2 linked regions of the Homo sapiens genome follow. The protein of the gene in region 1 interacts with the protein of each later gene in a pairwise test. Each region holds a gene or a part of one and is shown on either strand. Other genes may lie near its edges.

What was found. Proteins that work in one complex are often made in the same cells at the same time.
Region 2: the proteins of TTC32 (region 1) and PRDM14 interact in binary tests that used the Homo sapiens proteins (3 or more experiments, as listed by UniProt).

What each region holds. Positions count from the first base shown.
Region 1 is NC_000002.12:19,896,102-19,899,059, forward strand, and holds the end of TTC32 (tetratricopeptide repeat protein 32), read right to left. Parts: intron 1,935-2,958; coding exon 1,768-1,934; intron 1,026-1,767; coding exon 886-1,025; 3' UTR 530-885; downstream 1-529.
Region 2 is NC_000008.11:70,068,453-70,072,553, forward strand, and holds the start of PRDM14 (PR domain zinc finger protein 14), read right to left. Parts: upstream 2,801-4,101; 5' UTR 2,698-2,800; intron 1,433-2,697; 5' UTR 1,409-1,432; coding exon 709-1,408; intron 81-708; coding exon 27-80; intron 1-26. UniProt on the Homo sapiens protein: Transcription factor that has both positive and negative roles on transcription. Required for the maintenance of embryonic stem cell identity and the reacquisition of pluripotency in somatic cells.

The DNA.
Region 1 (2,958 bases):
TTGTCATTATCCAGAGACAGAAAATATGTTCAATATTTAAATCTTAACCTATTTTTATCAATGATTACTTGAGAAAATCAAGTGTAATTCAAGCTGAACTCTTTCAAATTGTAGGACATGTTTATTTTTAAGCCTAAATGTTATGTCTCTCTAGCCTAGCTATATAAAATAGCCTTTCTCTCAAAGCCAATGCTAGGGCAAGAAAATGGACAGGGGACTAGATTAAAAGAACTGAGAGAAACATAAAAAAAAAAAATGCAATTGAAACCTGATTGGCTCTAGATCCAAATAAAAATCTACACACTTTGGAATATGGGCTGGATATGGCTGACATTACAGAATTATTCATTTTATTAGGTATTATAATGGTATTGTGGTTATAAAGGAGGATGTCCTCAATCTTAGAAAATGTAGGCTGAAATATTTAGGGGCGAAGTACTGTGACCTCGTCACCTTATTTTCAAATGTTTCAGCAAAAAGTTATATATTTAAATAGAAAAAGCAAATGTGGCACAATATTAACAACTCATGAATTTAACTGAAGAGTTTATTATACTTTCAACTTTTCTGCAGATGTAACATTTTTTAAATAAAAAGTTGAGAATAAAAAAATCACAAAAATAGTTTTGCTGAAGAAAATACCACACATTCCTTTTTACTATAATATTTAATATAATAATATACACTTATACATTGGTATTATTTACACTTCATTAAAAAAAACCCATTCAACCTGAAATTAACTACCTTAAACACACTATTTAACTTTCAGTGCTAATGTATTAATTTCTTAAATATAAATCAAAATAGCTCAATATCTAAATTACTGATAACTAGATGCAGATGTAAGGATCATGAATCAATACTTCCATTAAGTTAAAAATATCAATAATTTTTTGCAACATTTCTTCTTTGTTTTTCTTCTTTGTCTAGAATAGTCTGTTTTAAGCTCAAAGTAGCATCTTGAAATCCAGGATTTAAGTCTAAGACCTTCTTGAAATCTTCCAAAGCATCATCAAAATATCCTGTACCAGAACCCAAAAAATGGAAAAGAGAAAAGAAACCGAGTATTTCTATATATTATTCATGGAAAAGCTTTGATACATGTACTTTTGCTTTTATATTTATGAGCTTTCAGTCACTTCTAGTAAAGGAATCTTTTTATCTTAATAATATAGAGATGTGTATATCAAAGTAATTTTGTGTGCCCTTAGGGAATAATACACCTAAAATTAGCTATGGGTTTATTTATTGAGATTTAACAGGTAAATATTATCAATCATCTTAAAATTTTAATAAAACTGTATCACCTGTTTTACATAATTGCAGTAAAATTAAGAAACGGGAACTAATTTTCTTTTTGACACTTTAAATGAAGAAACACTACCTATGGTCCCTTTAATCCAAGAATCTAAACTTCACTTTCTATTGTCTTGTGTGTCTTCAAAGATTTTAACTCAGAAAAGTTTCACAGGTGAACATCTGAATTGCCCTCATTTCACAGCTGGGAATGCACAAGCACAAAGTAATGGGGTCACCCCTGCTCCTGCGCCCAGGTCCAATTCCCACCCCAGTGCTCTGCTGTGATCTATAACGCCTATCAAAAGCCTAAAATAAACTCAGGGACACTTCCTTTGTTCCAAGCTCTAAACCTAAATTTCACAGAACTTTAAAATTTGATTACCACGTTAGTTTTACAACATTTGAAAGCTCTGAAATAACAGAATACAGTCAATGACAAAACTCAAAAAGAAAAAAAATTCTTACCCAGCCTATACAGTATCAACCCTCTGTTGTAATATGGAACTTCAAAATTGGGTTGGACTTCTATGGCAGATGTGTAGTCATCCATGGCTTCATAAAAATCAACCCTGAAGTACTTGATTTGCCCCCTGTTGTTATATGCAGTAGCCAAATCCTCAGGGCTGCATTTGCTTTAAACAAAAAGTTCACATTAAAAACACCGTGTTACCAAATTCCTCTCATTTCCACTTTCATTCTCTTTTGGGTATTGTCAAACTTCACAGCCTATAACATGCAGCATCAACACTGAAAATCCAAGCTGAAGAAAAAACGTACAAATAAAGAGCTAAAATCAATTTTTGTTTAACCCTGTTATCTACTTTTGTAGGGTTATACCACTGCAATGTCAACCTGAAAAGCATACTAACTTTACAGTGTGTTCACTGCCAATTTGTTCTGCTGAATATAACATTAAAATGATTGTTCATTTTTCTAAGCACACACCAGCAGGGCAAAGAAGACAGAACAGATAAATACTAAGCAAAGAGGGAAAGCCAGCCCAAAGCCCGAGTTTGCTATGGATATGTCACAATGTGAATCAATTTCATTCTCAAATTTTTAAGTGATCTTAAAACAATAAGATTTGAAATCATTTTCCACCAATAAAAAACTAAAGTTAACGCTAAGTGAAAATTCAACATGCTACGATCCCCAGGAAGTTATCTCTGGGGACAGAGTTGCCCTCCCTCCAGCCTCAGCTGGCATCCTCCCCAATGCCAGGCTGGCTTCCTGCTAGGAGGGTGGGCTCCTTTAGACCCCCTCAGGGCTCCAGTCAATTTTGATGTCCTTTGTGCAGAACTGGCTCTGCACCTGAGGGAACTAGAGGTTGCCCAAAGAGCTTTAAATTAGCAGCCATTCCTGGGCTGTACAGCCAGGTAGCTCTGACCAGCCACCAGCTCAACAGGTCACAGCCCCTGGCTGCCTTGAACCTTTCTCTGCACAGGACAAATAGTCTGCACAGAGAACATTAGTGCCTCTGCTCTGAGTCAGGGATGATTCTGTTTCCCTTTCTTTTTTCCCAAAGCAATTCTCAAATTAGAACCAAACAGAGAATTCATCTGTCACTTCTTTGTAATACCCCGTAGTAAAAAGTATAGTCCTCCGAAAGTATCTGTGAAGGCAGTTAGTGTAAATAAAAGCTACTTCTCTTAATAT
Region 2 (4,101 bases), on another chromosome or scaffold:
AAATCCATGCAAGGAGTCCTGCCTACCTTCTGGAAGTTGAAGGGAGTCTTTATCCAGAGTTTGAGGAAGAGAATCAGATCCTAGCAAAAGGCAGGTTAAAACAATTTTTCATTAAAAATGCATTATAAAGTGCTTTTATGAGGTGTTTCCCTCCTTAATTCCCTAAAGGTAACCATCATCCCAGTTTGATATTTATTTGTTGTTTCTATTTTTCCCTGCTCATTTTACATGGTCTGTTCATACACGATTTCACTGTAAACAATTCCATATACAATTTCTCATTTGAGACTCAGAACAGCCTCATGGAAGTTTATGTAATTAACCCCATTAGGCAAATTCAAGGAATTTGAGGATCAGAGGTAATGCCTGACTAAGGTCAGCGTAGCTAGCTGAGCTGGGACTGTTAGGTGTGAACTGCTGAAGGCTGTCATTGCATGTTAGCATAGAATCTGAACCTACCTGGGAGTTCGCTGCAGGAACCATTTCTCTCTTGGTCCTCAGCTCTCACTAAAACCAACCTTAGTCATGCAGTTAAGCAAGCAGGGCCTCAGAAGTGAGCCTAGAACAGCCCTGGCTCTCATGGAGGTACTTCCCCCTTCCCGCACTCTGCAGCCTCAGCTCCACCTGGAAGCGCCTCTTCCCGGACACTCCCGTTCCCGCCTGCATTCCCGTCCAATTCGACTCCCAAATGGTGTGAACTCCCTTTACCAGAGCTGTCTGGGGGGACCAGGAGGCCTGAAATCGCATGGTGCAGGCTGGCTGGGTGCTCCAGGCTGGGAGTGACCCCGTACAGAACGAAGTGCAGGTCCTCCTCCGTGAACTGGAACCGAGCAGGGGACTTCCCTTCTTGGTTGGAGGGTTTGGGACCATCCTCTGACTGCTTGCTGGGTGAGCAAGGTAATAACTGGGAGGTCCTCAGCCCCTCAGGTAACAGAGAAGCATCCGCAGGGGGCGGTGGAATTAAAGTGTCAGGTCCACAACACGGGCCACTCTCGTTGTCGCCACCAATGATTTGGTGGCCCAGATCTTCACTGCTGGCACCCGCGTACTCGTGGCTGCTGCTCAGGAAGGGCGGCACTTCCCTGGGGACGTGGGGAATTGGGTACCACGGTGGCAGCTTGCTGTACCAGGGCAGATCGTAGAGAGGCTCCCTCTGTAGGCCCAGACCCGGGCTCAGCAAGGGAGGCGCCATCCGGAAGGGGAAGGGGGGCATGGCGGGGGCAGCAGACGCTGCGGCCTCCAGCTGCCGGAAAGGTTGGAAGTCTTCCTCCACGGTGGCCAGGCTGTTTCTGTAGTGTCCATAGGACGGGAAAGGCGTGTAGTACGCGGCCAGGTTCTGCGGGCTGCTCTCCGGCGGGTAGCACACCTTGTCCTGAGGCACGGCCTCACTTGGCCGGGGTAGAGCCATCCCGGGACCGCACGCTCGGCGGCTCTGCAGAAAAGCGGGCGCCGCTGAGGACACCGCGCGGGAGCTTCCCGGGGTCCGACCCGCGCCTCCCCACCAGCCTCCTCCACCCCAGCCAGCCCCAGATCCAAGGGAACAGGATAAACGCCCCCAGTCCGATCCCGCCAGCCCGCTCCCACAATTAAGACAAAACGAAAAAACAGCAATAGAAGCAAACACAAAAAAGCCCCAAACGGAAATCTGCCGGGATCCTGCCCTACTCTAAATTCCGGGTTAGTGTTGCCTTCCCCTTCCCTCTCCAAGCACCCCTTCCCTAAGCCCGGCCGCCTTCCCACACCCGCTCTCCGCTTTCGGCCCCCAACCCGGTTCCTGCAAAACCCATTGAAGTTCCCTTTCCTTCCTTCTTCTCAGTCCTACAAAACTCGTTGGTAGGGTCTGTGGGAGCCGCGGGGCCCTGCCAACCTCGGGGCTGGGCCGGGAGCCGAGCGCAGGCGGTCGGAGGGCAATGGAGCAAGCGACAGCTCCAGGCGCTCCTGGGCCCTCGGCTGGGAGGGAAGAGCCGAGGACCCTGGGTCGCACCGCGCAGATGGAGACGCGCTCCCAGAGCCCCCGGGCAGGTCCAGGGACCCCGCGACCTGCTCTGGCCCAGCGGTGTGACCCCGCGGGTCCTGGCGGTCCTGACTGCCCGCAGGGGAGGGGCGCGCCACTTTTGGCTGCCCTAGGATGCGCCGCCTGAACCTCTTTTCCCTCGCGGGCAGCGTCCGCCACATTCCCCGGGTTCCTCGGAAACTCCAATCATTCTACCAGGACTATTGGGGCCTGGGGTAGCCCCTCGGGAGCCGCGTGGACGAGCCCTGGCCAGGTGGGAGCGAAGAGCCTCGGCGACTGCCAGTCCTCCCGCCCCCGCACCGCCGGGAAAGGATGGCGTTTTAATAGACAGGCAGCAAGTTCACCGAGGCTGAAGAATGAAGCCCCTTCAGGGCCGGCGGGTCTTGAGATCAATGAGCCCAATAAGAAAACCAAGCAGGGTCATGACTCAGAAATTAAAGAACACGGGGTCAGGAGAAGAGGTCAGCCACGACACAGGCAGCGGCCCGTCTCCTCCCGATCCTCCAAAGGCGCCCTTCTCCTAGCCTCCTCCGACCTCAGGGATCTGCAACTTGGGATTCAAAGCCCCCGAGAGGGCAGAACGACCATCCAAAACGAACTGCGCCAGCGAGTGCTGCCGCCCTCCCCAACGGCCCTGGAAGACCACCGCCCCGGGCCCCAGGCGCGTCCTGTCCCGTGCCTACCTCCGACACCACCTCCAAGAGCGCCACCGCGGAGCGGGCGCCTCCTGGACGCTGCGGGGCCACTCGGGCTCGGTAGGCCACTCGGGCTCGGTAGACTTCGGGCGGGCCCTGAGGGCTGAGCCAGGCTTAAGAGGGCGGGCGGGGCCGCGGGGCATCGACAGGTCGAGGGTAGGGAATTGACCCGGCCCACGCAGATCCCCGCGTCGTCTTCTCCCCGCCCACCGCAGCCATTGGCCGACTCTCGACTCGCCCTCTGTCCCCTGGGGTCGCTCACTTAACTCATCAGTTTTCCAAACCCTCCCTGGGACCCTAGTGGCGAGCACTCGCCGCTGGCCTTCTAGGGCAGGCAGTATTGCCGCTCCAGGCGTGCGGAGTCGGGGAGAAAAAAACCGAACACGTGTGCTACCCAGGGCCCCCAGATAAGCCCCTCCGCGCGCACACACACCCTGAACCGGAGTCCAGAAGGCCGGACTCGCGTCCCGGGGTCGAGCCCCTTACTCTCCGCTCCCAGTTCGGAAGATCCCAGCCTGCCCGAAGGCGGCGTCTGACCCGCTGGTGGACCTGGTGGGTGTCTGTTCCTGATACCTGGGGACGAGGCGGGAGCGCCTTGAGCGCTGGGAAGCTTCGCCTCGCGAGTCCCCGGCAGTGACACGTGGGAGCGTTGGGCCCGGCACCCCCGACGCTTCCGAGGTTTCGGGTGGTCGTTTTGCTCTCTCGGGGGCTTTTATTCCTTAAGTGGCTTTAAACGACCGAGGATGGGCCTCCCGCGCCGCCGCAGCTGTCACTTCCTTCGGGAAAGGCTAGCGACCTTGGACGCGCAGGCTCTGAAAACCAAGGTCCAGACCCATACCGAGCGCCCAAAGACCGCATTTGAATTCTCCTCGCCGGCCATTGAGGGAGAGAAAGGAACGCTTAGTTCCATTCACATTCACAGAAAGAAGCGCCGAGGGTGGGGGAAACGCAGTCTTGCCGGGTGAGCCGGGACAGGTTCCTCGCCTGCCCCCCGGCCGCTGCTTCCTCTTAGCTGAATGGGGAGCGACCCGCCCCGGGCGCGGCCTTCGGGGCTGAAGACTGAGGTGCAGCCTCACCCCCGGCCTGGCAGCGGCTTGGAAGAGAGAGGGAAAGGAGGAACATCTACCCGGCTAAGAGACGCCGCCAGAGTCCCTAAAGCTGGCGGGGGACGGAGGCCGGGGTCCCGGATCTTCAGAGCGCCCGCAGCCGGGCTTCTGGGCTCCTCGGTGCGGGGAACCTGACCCTGTAGCCTTCGCCAGGGCGCGGCGGGGCTGCAAGAAGGGAGGAAGGAGTGGGACTAGAGCCTTCGAGGGCGCGGGCGGCGTGCACTCAGCCTTGTCTCCCCGCGCGCCCTGCCGCCTGCTTGCCCCCTTTGCTGCACCGGGTGGCCCT